Regions from separate parts of the Homo sapiens genome. Here region 1 is linked to region 2. The links come from fine-mapping of genetic effects on gene expression. Tissue or cell type: gastroesophageal junction. Region 2 holds a variant in brackets; the other region holds the start of a gene. All regions are shown on one strand. Distances are between the middles of the regions.

Region 1 (5,486 bases), 340 kb before region 2:
GAATTTTCTACAGTAGATTTCAAAAAAATCAGGGAAACAGCCCAATATCCTTTCAGATACCATTCTTATTGACTAGAGGCCTGGGCTTGCCTAACTTTGCAATCTGTAGGTCATCACTGTGACCAGCTAGTTAGGGCTTGGGCAGATGGGACTTGAAACAAAGAGACGGAAATTGGTAGTAGAATCCATCTGACACTTTGACTTTTTTTTTTTTCTAATGGGATATTTTCATTAACCCCATCCTAAATTTCTATTTCCCGGATCAAATGATAGCTGGTCAAGGAACATCGTGGGTTATATTTTCTGAAAGCGTTAGCCATCTTAATTTTTTTTGTGGGAAAGGTGGAAGGGACTCACTCCTAACTTTTCCCAAACTGTTTGACAACAACATATTTTTATACGGTTATCATAAGTGTTGATTACATTTGAAATTGGTCCTTTGGACTAAATTGTCTAAATTTTCTAGTTCAGTATGATTTACTGTATAGTGTTTCTTCAGCAGATCTAAACCTTAAAAAAAACTACTTCCATGTGACAAACCGTGATGCAATTTTGCAGCTGTTTTCATTCTAAACATATTGAGCCCAATATATCCCAATTAGAAGAAATGTATATGAATTATCCTTATTAAGCGGTATTTGTAATTCTCTAGCACTTGTCTAAATTTCTTTGGTCTCTATTTTCTTCTAGTTGTACATTCCAATTGGCTACATTAAGATACAGCAGATTTTACAAAATAATGAACAATTTATACATGTTTTAAATAGAAATGTTTAAAAATTACTATGGTTTTCATTTCCTTGATTCATGAAATGATAATATAACAGAAAGGGAAAACAAAATCCAAAATGAGATTTGGGTCATATGTTTTGCTCTGAACACTTGATTTTTCTTTGGAACTTGGAGTTTGATATAATGTGGAGCCTGGAAAGGGAGCATATGGTGTATACGAGGCACTCTTTTCTCTTACTGTGATTTTTCTCTATTTTCAAAATGCAACTTTGGGAAAAGATTTTAGGTGGATTCTGGCCACCTACCTATAAATGGTAGTGTCAATATCTTTCTTGGATCCTGCTGCCATCCAGGTGGGGGTAGAACCTTTTTGAAAAATTGTAGAAAAGGGGTGAAGTCTCATGTGATTATAGTTGTAGAAATCCAGCAACTCATACCCTCTTTGTGGTAGGCATATAAATGCTGTCTCTATCAATGTGCCTGGAGAGGGTTCCTTGAAGTACTAGTGGCTCCTTCCATCCTGTACAGTTCTTTGATGGGGATGGGATACTCTGAACTCTTGGACTGCTCTCCCTCCCTGGGCTCCCCAGATAATTTAGTTTGGAAGTTTCTTAGATACCTAGTACAAAGTGCTATCTAAGAAAGGAATTAAGCCAATTCTACTGGTATAGAACATTCATTTATTCAGAGATTATCAAACTGTAAACCACCTGATGAAATGTTCATAGGTTTTTTCATTGAGTATTTTGTATGTTTTTTACTTCATTACTTTCTTCTCTTCTCTTTATTGTTTCCCCCCTATAATTTATTTGAGTTTATTTTGCCATTCTTTTTCCAACTCTTTGATATGAATAATTAGCTTATTAATTATTAATTTTATGCTTTTCTGCATTTCTGGTATAGGTACTTAATTATATACATTTTCCTTTAAATATTGATTTAGCTGCATACTGCAAATTTTCTGTGTTGTTTTCATTATTGTTGAATACAAAATGTTTAAACATTTTTAATATACTCTTTTTGTGATTTATGAATTATTCAAAGCAATGCTATTCAAGCAAAATACAAGATAAGCCACAAATTCCAGTCACATTTGTGATTTAGAATTGTAAACTTCAAATCATGAGATTTGTTGGCCCTATGGCTGCCTCTGGTTGTGCTCAATATGATGCCTGGATATTGCTACACCAGATTCTTGCACACAGCCTTTTGCCTGGTTCTTATTGGCTCCATCTCTTTTCCCATGATTCTCCTGATTTCTCCAATACTCTTGCCATTAACTTTTGTGGCTGCAAACAGTCTGATCTTACTTCTGTCACATCCTTACCTCCACTTTGCTACTCAGAACTATAACCTTCTGAAACTTAGCCATCCTCAAACATGTGCAGACTACTTTGTCAGAATGTTTAGATCCCTTTTCTGTTTTACAAGAGAAAATATGTGTTTATAATTATGTATAAATTAATTTCACCAAACATTAATTTATTTCATTTCACATTAAAGTTTATCTGTAATATTTTAGGCTGTTCATAAAAGCCTCCTGAATGTAGTTCGTTAGTTCAATCTTATAAACCTAGCATTTCATTAGTAGGATACATTTCTGATGAATAAATACTGTTGGTTTTCAACATCAAACACTTTGCAACAAAAGTTGGAAAAGAGTGTCCTGCATTTACTCAAGACTACTGGATCTTATTTCCAACCAGGATATATTTATTCTAGTTAGTGTTGATGTGACAATGGGGACTGGTGACTCGGAAAACTTAATTTACAAATATTTATAATTTATTTTGCCTAAAATGACATTAGGGACAGAGAGGTGACCATTTGGGGAGTTAGACTGGCATGAGCTAACTACCAGTTTGTCCCAGGCATTCAAAAAATACGGCTTCAAGGAAAGCAATGGTCAAAAATAAAGGTTGAAAATAAAAACATTGTCTAGCTTTGGTGCGATATCCAAAAACTACAATAACTATTGTATTTGAAAACTTTTTAAATATACCTTAAGCTTTCTGCCACCTTACAGAAAGGACAGTCTCTTGGCTGGCTGTTATGGCTAAATTTTAAAAATATCCATAGGGAATATCAGTCCTTCAACCTATAGATATAAAACCCCCAAATTCTGAAACTGCCAACAGTCTTTTTTTTTTTTTTTCCACAGCATTTACTTGTGTTTTGATTGCAAGAAGTACCCAGGAAGGAATAAAATTTAGTAACAGAATGAGGATGTTATGATTTTTTTTTAAACTGGGTTAGGGGTGGGGAGAGGGAGAGAGAGAGAGAGAAATATTTTGCACTGGAAAAACTATAATCTGGAGAGACAGAGGAGTTGAGAGTGCCCCTTTAAACTGCAGGACTGCAATTGATCTCTGTATGTTTTCTGGTTTTCGTCCCTTTGAAAGGGGAATGAGAGCCAGGATCATTGGCTGTACTGTGGAGCTGTCACATCTCCATACTGAAAAGGTACACTGCAAGTGAATTTAAACCGTTTTTGGCTTTCTATTGCATATTGCCAAGAGCTTTGAGACTGATGAACCAAGTAAATGCTCTATTTAGGGCTAAGTGAGATACAGATTCCTCCAATCTGATAGCGTTTCAGCCTCCGGAGTGAGGAAGCAGCAGAAACAGAAGCAGCAGAAGCAACAGCAGTAGCAGCGGCAGCAGCAACAGCAGCAGCCCCTACTGAAGTCCAATAGAGGAGACTTGATCTCTAGTTCATTCTGGAACTCCGCCTGGGATTGTGCACTGTCCAGGGTCCTGAAACATGAACCAAACTGCCAGCGTGTCCCATCACATCAAGTGTCAACCCTCAAAAACAATCAAGGTAGGATCTGGTTTTTCCCTCTGCTTCTGCACATGTGTCTTCATTCATCTACCTAACACATGGGCATTGATATATCGGGGTACTGACAGTGGACATACCTACTTGATTTGAGTTTGAATTGAAGGTTGAGTCACAATAAAGCATTTGGCTCTGCATGTGTGTGTAGACTGGAAAGAATAGTTTCCACTGAACACTTCTTTCATCTTCATGACTTTTTTTTTTTTTACTGAGAATCTATCAGAGGTATATTTCCAGAAGAAAGTTTTGTGAGTGTCTAGAAGAGTTTCCAGTCCATGCCAATTTTCTTGATAGAACTGGGGAAGAATTTGCAAACTGCTAGAAATAAATAGCATCAAATTGACTACAAATCTGATAACAGGATTTCATTGTCATATGAATTTTGGATCTCTTATCCTTTTTTAAAAAAAGCTCATCCTTCATTGTGAGCATTGAACTGGTGGTTATACTAAAGTGATTATAGTGAGAGAGGATGAAAGACTAGAGAGAGAGTATAAAATCACATGTCTTTATTTATATCACCATGTAACTCAAAACCAGTGAGATGATTGGAGACACTCTTCAATGCAGGTGTTGTTTAAAATTTGAGGCTTTTCTGACAGCACATGGTTAAAGGTAAAGAACAAACTCACAATTTCACTCTTCTGTTTTAGTTTCAAGTCATGCTTATACCATTCTCTTTGTTTTTATTCGGGATGCTCTTATTTCCAAGAAGGCTTATAAACGACCAGACTTCCAATCAAAGTTTACTATATTTTGCCATTTACTTGAATTGTATTATTATCTATGTGGATATTTTGCATCTTGAGGGAAAGTGATGGATTCGTCTGAAACTCTTTTATGAAAAAAAAAAAAAAACTAAAACAAAAAACGTGATATCCTGACAGGGCATCTTTAGTTACTGCAATCTCTCATTAACATACAAGTGCATACCTTTTGCTACTATTCCTGATAAGCCTGACTTTTTATGATTTATATTATGTTTTGGTTTATGTCTCAGGCCTTTAATAATATTGCATAGACTGTAATTACAAAAGGAATATAATTTTCAACAATGTCTCTTCTTCATGAATTTACCTACCGTTTGCCAGAGTGTTTCAGTGATAGATAAACCATAAACTAAACATGTTCCTCTATTTATTAGCAGTGACTTTTAAAAGCAATGGGGTTTCCAGGGTATATTAAATGATGCATAATTAGATTCCCATCATACATAAACATAGGGAGTTAACTGAAATCATGCAGAACTCATATTCAGATAATTTACACCACCTCTAATAACAGATATGAGAATCTTTTTCAGCATTAGATTTTCTGTGCTGTATCTAAGTTTAGAAATAAAAAATGTTGAGCTTTTGGTATAGTTTTCCTCTGTGTATCAGTTTCCCACATACATCAATTATCTAAGCATATCACTGAACAAAGCCAAAATAGTAAATACATGACACTCTACATTGGGATATATAAGCTCTAGTGGGAAATATGTATTGAAGCCTAAAGTGGGATAGAGTTACAAACTGGCTGCCTACTGCTAAGTATGTCTAGAATGCTATAACAAAACCAGTGGCTTTCTGTTTAAGAGTCTGAGGTCACAGGAATCAAGCATTTATTTTCCCTTTTCTTTATTGAGTAAGCATAAATGACTACTACTTTCAGAGACTTCAAATCACTTCCTTTATTAGTGCTCTGGCATTGGCTGCCCACAAACAAACTGTGGAACAGAAAAAAAAATGTTTCTAGTGTAGAGGTTTTACATCATCTTGCTGATCTTGCAGATGCTGTTTTTTCCTTCTAACTGCAGCCATTGAGTTGAAATGAAAAGTATCATAAAAATTGGACAACCCACCACTTAACAATGTATTATATTAATGGCTTAATGAAGGAATCTTGAATCAAAGCTCTGGGTAATTTG
Region 2 (5,000 bases):
CAAGAATGTCTTCCCAGAGATGGTGAAAAACAAAATGAGTTTTGAAGATATGATGGGAAAATACACTGATTTTTAGATATAGCTCTAGATAAAAATAAAGAGACAAAGTGTTACAGGTAAAATTAGCTGCAGATACATCTTAGTTGTCATGTAGTTGATCCAATTGAGTGAACAATTGAACAACAATTAGAACACAAACAAACCTCCATGATCTGAGGCCTGCTGAACTCTCTTTTCTGACAGCCCTTCCCACTGCACATTGGATATAGAATGATGCCATGGCATTCCATGCATCCATGCCTTTGAACACACTATCTCCTCTGCTTGAATGACCTTTGCTGCTTATGTAGAAGGAAAAAACAGTTACATTCATACCTAAGGTTCCAGAGCTTCCAAGACCTTGTCAAAGAAAATAGACTCCTAGCTTTTCTCTACTGAATGCAATCTCCGTTATCAGGCCATAAGCTCCTTAGGAGCTAGCGCTAGATCTGAGTGAACACTGCCAGTAGTGTGATGAATTTGGCTTTTATAGGCTCAAAAGAAATATTGTTAAATGTACAACATTTTTTGAGCCATTTGTTAAATTTTTGGCAGCTTGAAGTCATCTATGGTGGGAGCTGACAAACACTACATTAAAAAAAGATCAAAAAATTTGTTGGATAAATTACATTAGAGTAATTTTTAAAGTCACATATTCAAGTTGTAGTGATTTAAATTAAATAAAGTTAGTGCAGATTATAAGAATTGATGAGTATTGAATTGATGAGTATTGGAAAAGGGGATGAGTGGAGACACCTCTCTGAGCAGTGTGAGTTTTGAAAAGGAAATCAAATTATTAGAGAAGATAATGGTAGCCAAAAAGACTTTCTAAGGATCAGTGTTCTCATAATTAAAAAAAAGAAGGCATAAGAATTTCTGCCAAACATACTTTTTCAAAAATAAAAAAGATATATGAAAATGTTTTATAAACCATGTAGTACATAACTATATAATATATACATTATATAGTGTATAGTTGCAATTATTGGACTAAAAGCAGTTAATACAGGCTTTACATATGTTAAGACTTTTATTCAGAAGTAAATGAAATGTACTCTTTGAGAATGGGTATATTTTATTGTTTTTTATAACCATATTCTCATTTATTTTTGAAACTCTTCTTAGAATAAGAAAAGAGTACAGGAAGACCAACAAGTCACATTCAAACCTTATAATTCTGCAGCCTAGGAAACACTGTCTTGTGCTGGAAATGGCTTCCTTTCTTCCTGGTCCAACTTTTTTGAACTGCCCATGGATTTTGCACTGTACAAATCACAATCCTTAGAAATATATTACCCACATACATTTCTGAAGAGGGTTTTCAGGGCCCTTTTTTGAGTATTACTTTTGGATATATTATTCCTACTAAATTATATTTCTTCCAGAAAAAGTTTTGAAAAGTTGGCAACCTCCCTATTTCAGTCCTTCATATTATGCCACTTGTTACAGTCATAAACAGCAAGGAAAGAAGGAAGTTTGACCAAATGCAAATGGCTGGGAAGAAGTAGCCCTTTCAGAGTTGCTGAATGTCTCGTGTGAAAATGCTTTGTGGCTGAGCTTAAGAAATAAATATAAAGTAGTATTTAAATCCTCATCTCAAAGCTTCTATCAGTAATAGATATGAAGCCCAAAGCAGTAAATGTTTAAATGACTACTTTACATCTCTTAAATGCAGTGTTATGTCCTGGCTATATGGTAATGACATCATTAAACAGAAATCCTTTGAGCCGCAGAACCAAGATGCTTTATAGTAAGTTCTATGAAGTTACATAGTCAAAGAGTTCACTGTTCTTTAAGTTAGACTCATATCCGCAATTTTATGACAGGTTCTGCTTAAATAATTGTAGGGTAGTGGTAAAGCATGGACTTTAGGGTCAATAATCTGAAGATCTAAATTTGAATTTGTCGTGTCTTTCATTAGTTAGCTGACATTCTGGATTTCAGTTTCAAGACCTTTAAAATGGGAATAATAGCAATCATCTTAAACATGTCCAAGAAAGAGTGAGACAATTAAATAAATACATTACTAAGAAGGGCTATAAATGAAATGTTATTATAGGTATTAGCATCATCATTATCATTCATTACCCTAATCATTATCATCTTTAAGCAATATTAAGGGATGACACTTACAGATAGACTGAGTCTTACTCTCTGGGTCAAGAAGGTTATTTCAAAATGCAAGTTACTAAAGTATATTATATATGCAAAACATTTGGCTTATTAAAACTCAAGTGTCATGGCTCATAGCCGAGACCTGCACTTTCATATAAATGTGATTTGATCATATGTATCATATTCAAAAATATCTATTAGTCCTATAACGTTAGCCACAGTGGCTAATTTCTATAATAGCTTCACATTTTAGTTACTTACCAACATAAAT[A/G]TTTATTTCTTATTTATGTTACAGTAAACTTAAGTTTGCTTGGGTGGAAGGTTGTCTCTTTTTCACGCAATTATTTAGAGTTCCAGGCTTCATCCATCTAATGGCTTTGTTAAAGTCTAGAGTCTTGGAGTGTACCACTGACTCCGTTAATCTGACCGGCAGATAAAATAGTAAAGAAATCATGGAAGCTTGCAAGGAAAGTACATGAACCAGGCCTGGAAGTGGTATATACCACTTCCATGAAAAATCCTACTGGTTTAAAATCGGTCGCATGACTGCACCTAATTGCAAAGGAAGCCAGAAAATGTAGTCCACCTATATGCTCTGATGGAAGATAAAATGGATTTGATGAGTCTTGCCAGCCTCTGCCATAGGGTTCTAGCATATTACAATAAATTATGAATTTAATTGACCGAAAGACAAAGCGCAACTTAATGGTGTCACAATCCCATGTTAGTTATAAAAAATAATGTATAATCTATTCTCCCCTTTATGGTTACTGTAAAAATTAGTAGCACCCTAGTTAATTCAATGCCAGAAAGCAGCTGTCTTGAGAGTTCATGGTCTTAAGCTTTACATGCCTGGGCTCTATTTTTGGTCCAGTGGAGTTGGTACCTCTGGGGCCTGAGTAATCCCGTGTTGCAGCAGACAGAGTTCCTCTGCTGCAGTCAGGCCTTCTCATCAGTGTATACCCCTGTGAAACTTCCAGACTACACAGAATAACCTGGCTTTCTCTCCTGGATGTGGATGTGGACACTAAATGCTCTTCATCTGAACGAAGAGGTTTGTGTTTCATAAAGATTAAGCTAACTATGAGGAAAAAACAGGCAACCAGACTCTTCTGAGATTTTCTGTCTGCATATAGACATCAATATAAACATAGGTATATGTTTGTTCAGTATGGCTTTTATTATTAACAGAACAAGAGCCAGCTCCCTGAGAGCTACCCAAGGTCCTAAACCACCTCTGATCAAAGTTATCTCATATCTAGGGTAGCAGAGGACTCCTGATTTTTCAGAGGACCTATTCCCGTCATATCTTATAAAATGTAATGATTGACTTCTTACATACAAGCTGCTAATTTTGATATGGTCTAAGCTGATATCAGTTTACGCTGAGGACTTTTTCATATCCCAACATAACTTGACCTTTCATCCCATTTGATTGCATGGTCTGTTCATGACCAGCCCTGACCTGTGATAACCCTCCTTTATAATATTCTGGTGTTAAGGATGCCCAACCTTGCGCTAAAGTAACCTGATAGACCCAGAAATGCTGCCAGTACAGCTATTTTATCAGGTGGGATTTAGATATTTATGCTTCTGTGATCATGTTTATCAAAAATTCCAAAAACATTTTCTCATGAGGATAACATAAGAAAGGAGGGAAGGGGCTGAGCACGGTGGCTCACGCCTGTCATCCCAGCACTTTGGGAGGCCAAGGCGGGCGGATCACGAGGTCAGGAGATCGAGACCATCCTGGCTAACATGGTGAAACCCCATCTCTACTAAAAATACAAAAAATAAGCCGGGTGTGGTGGTGGTCGCCTGTAGTCCCAGCTACTCGGGAGGCTGAGGCAGGAGAATGGTGTGAACCCGGGAGGCGTAGCTTGCAGTGAGCCGAGATTGCACCACTGCACTCCAGCCTGGGTGACAAAGCGAGACTGCGTCTCAAAAAAGAAAGGAGGGAAAGGAGGGAAGGAAAAGAGGGATGATTGATTTTCCCTGCCTTACTCACAGGATCAAATATGATAATGCAGACAAAACTGTTGTGATGATATAGAGTATTTTTGTCATCTAACTCATCTAACTCCATCAAATAATAGGATAGCTTGGTTTTGAGAAAACAAGTGACAAATTATCATACTTATTTTTCTCATGAAATATCCTTCATGTGTGATCTTTATATTCTTTGGAAAATCTAAAAGACTTACAGTTAGTCAAAGTAAGCACCAACCTAAGTTCCAATCTAATTTCAGAAGTCTGAATCATTATTTTAATTCTTTAGGGTACTGGAAGGAATTTAGGTTCAAGATAGCTGTGAACAATGTGTTTATATAGTAAAACAAGATTTATTTATTTGTTATCACTAAATTCCATTTAAATTTTACAATAGCTATTATTACAATAACACACTATTAAATTACAACTGCATTTATGTAGATACAACATTCCTCAAAAATGTTGTTTGGTATTTAAAGGGCATTATTATGATTATCAGAAAGAAATTTTGTTAAATTGCATTTAAGATATCTTAAATGTTTATCTAGTTGATTGGTTGATTTATTGACATGAGTAGAATATTTTAAATTAGTAGGCTACCTAGTTAAATTAATGAATTTTTATCTTTAGTATCATGAATGAAAATGTTGCACATGTTGAGAATGAATATGAGACAGTCTTTAAGTCAAGAGCATTACAATCTGATTGGGAAGATTATTCTATTGAATATCATTTGTCAGTTACTGTGAATAGAATGGTGAATGAGACATTTAATTTGCATGTACTTGTCATATCTTTCCTACTAGGATATAAGCTTCAAGTTTCAGAAGATGAGAAATGTGTTTAACATCTCC

Alleles and levels. Positions count from the first base shown, and alleles are read on the strand shown. Sizes are in standard deviations (SD) of each study's normalised expression.
With allele A in place of G in region 2, the expression in gastroesophageal junction of the gene that starts at base 3,359 in region 1 is higher (small effect, 0.25 SD a copy in GTEx).

What was found. PIP is the estimated chance that this variant, and not a neighbour inherited with it, causes the effect.
Region 1: DPP10 starts here. The variant in region 2 is the best candidate, but not a certain one, in a credible set for the expression of DPP10 in gastroesophageal junction (GTEx, PIP 0.68).

Annotation. Positions count from the first base shown.
Region 1 is chr2:114,439,283-114,444,768 of GRCh38, forward strand. It overlaps DPP10 (dipeptidyl peptidase like 10), which reads left to right and starts at 3,359. Exons shown (of 26, transcript NM_020868.6): 1 at 3,359-3,556. The coding sequence starts at 3,497.
Region 2 is chr2:114,776,039-114,781,038 of GRCh38, forward strand. All of the region lies in intron 1 of DPP10 (dipeptidyl peptidase like 10), which reads left to right. Among named protein-coding and RNA genes, the nearest start is that of DPP10-AS3, 55 kb to the right of the region's middle. The variant A/G (reference allele first, on the strand shown) is at 2,426.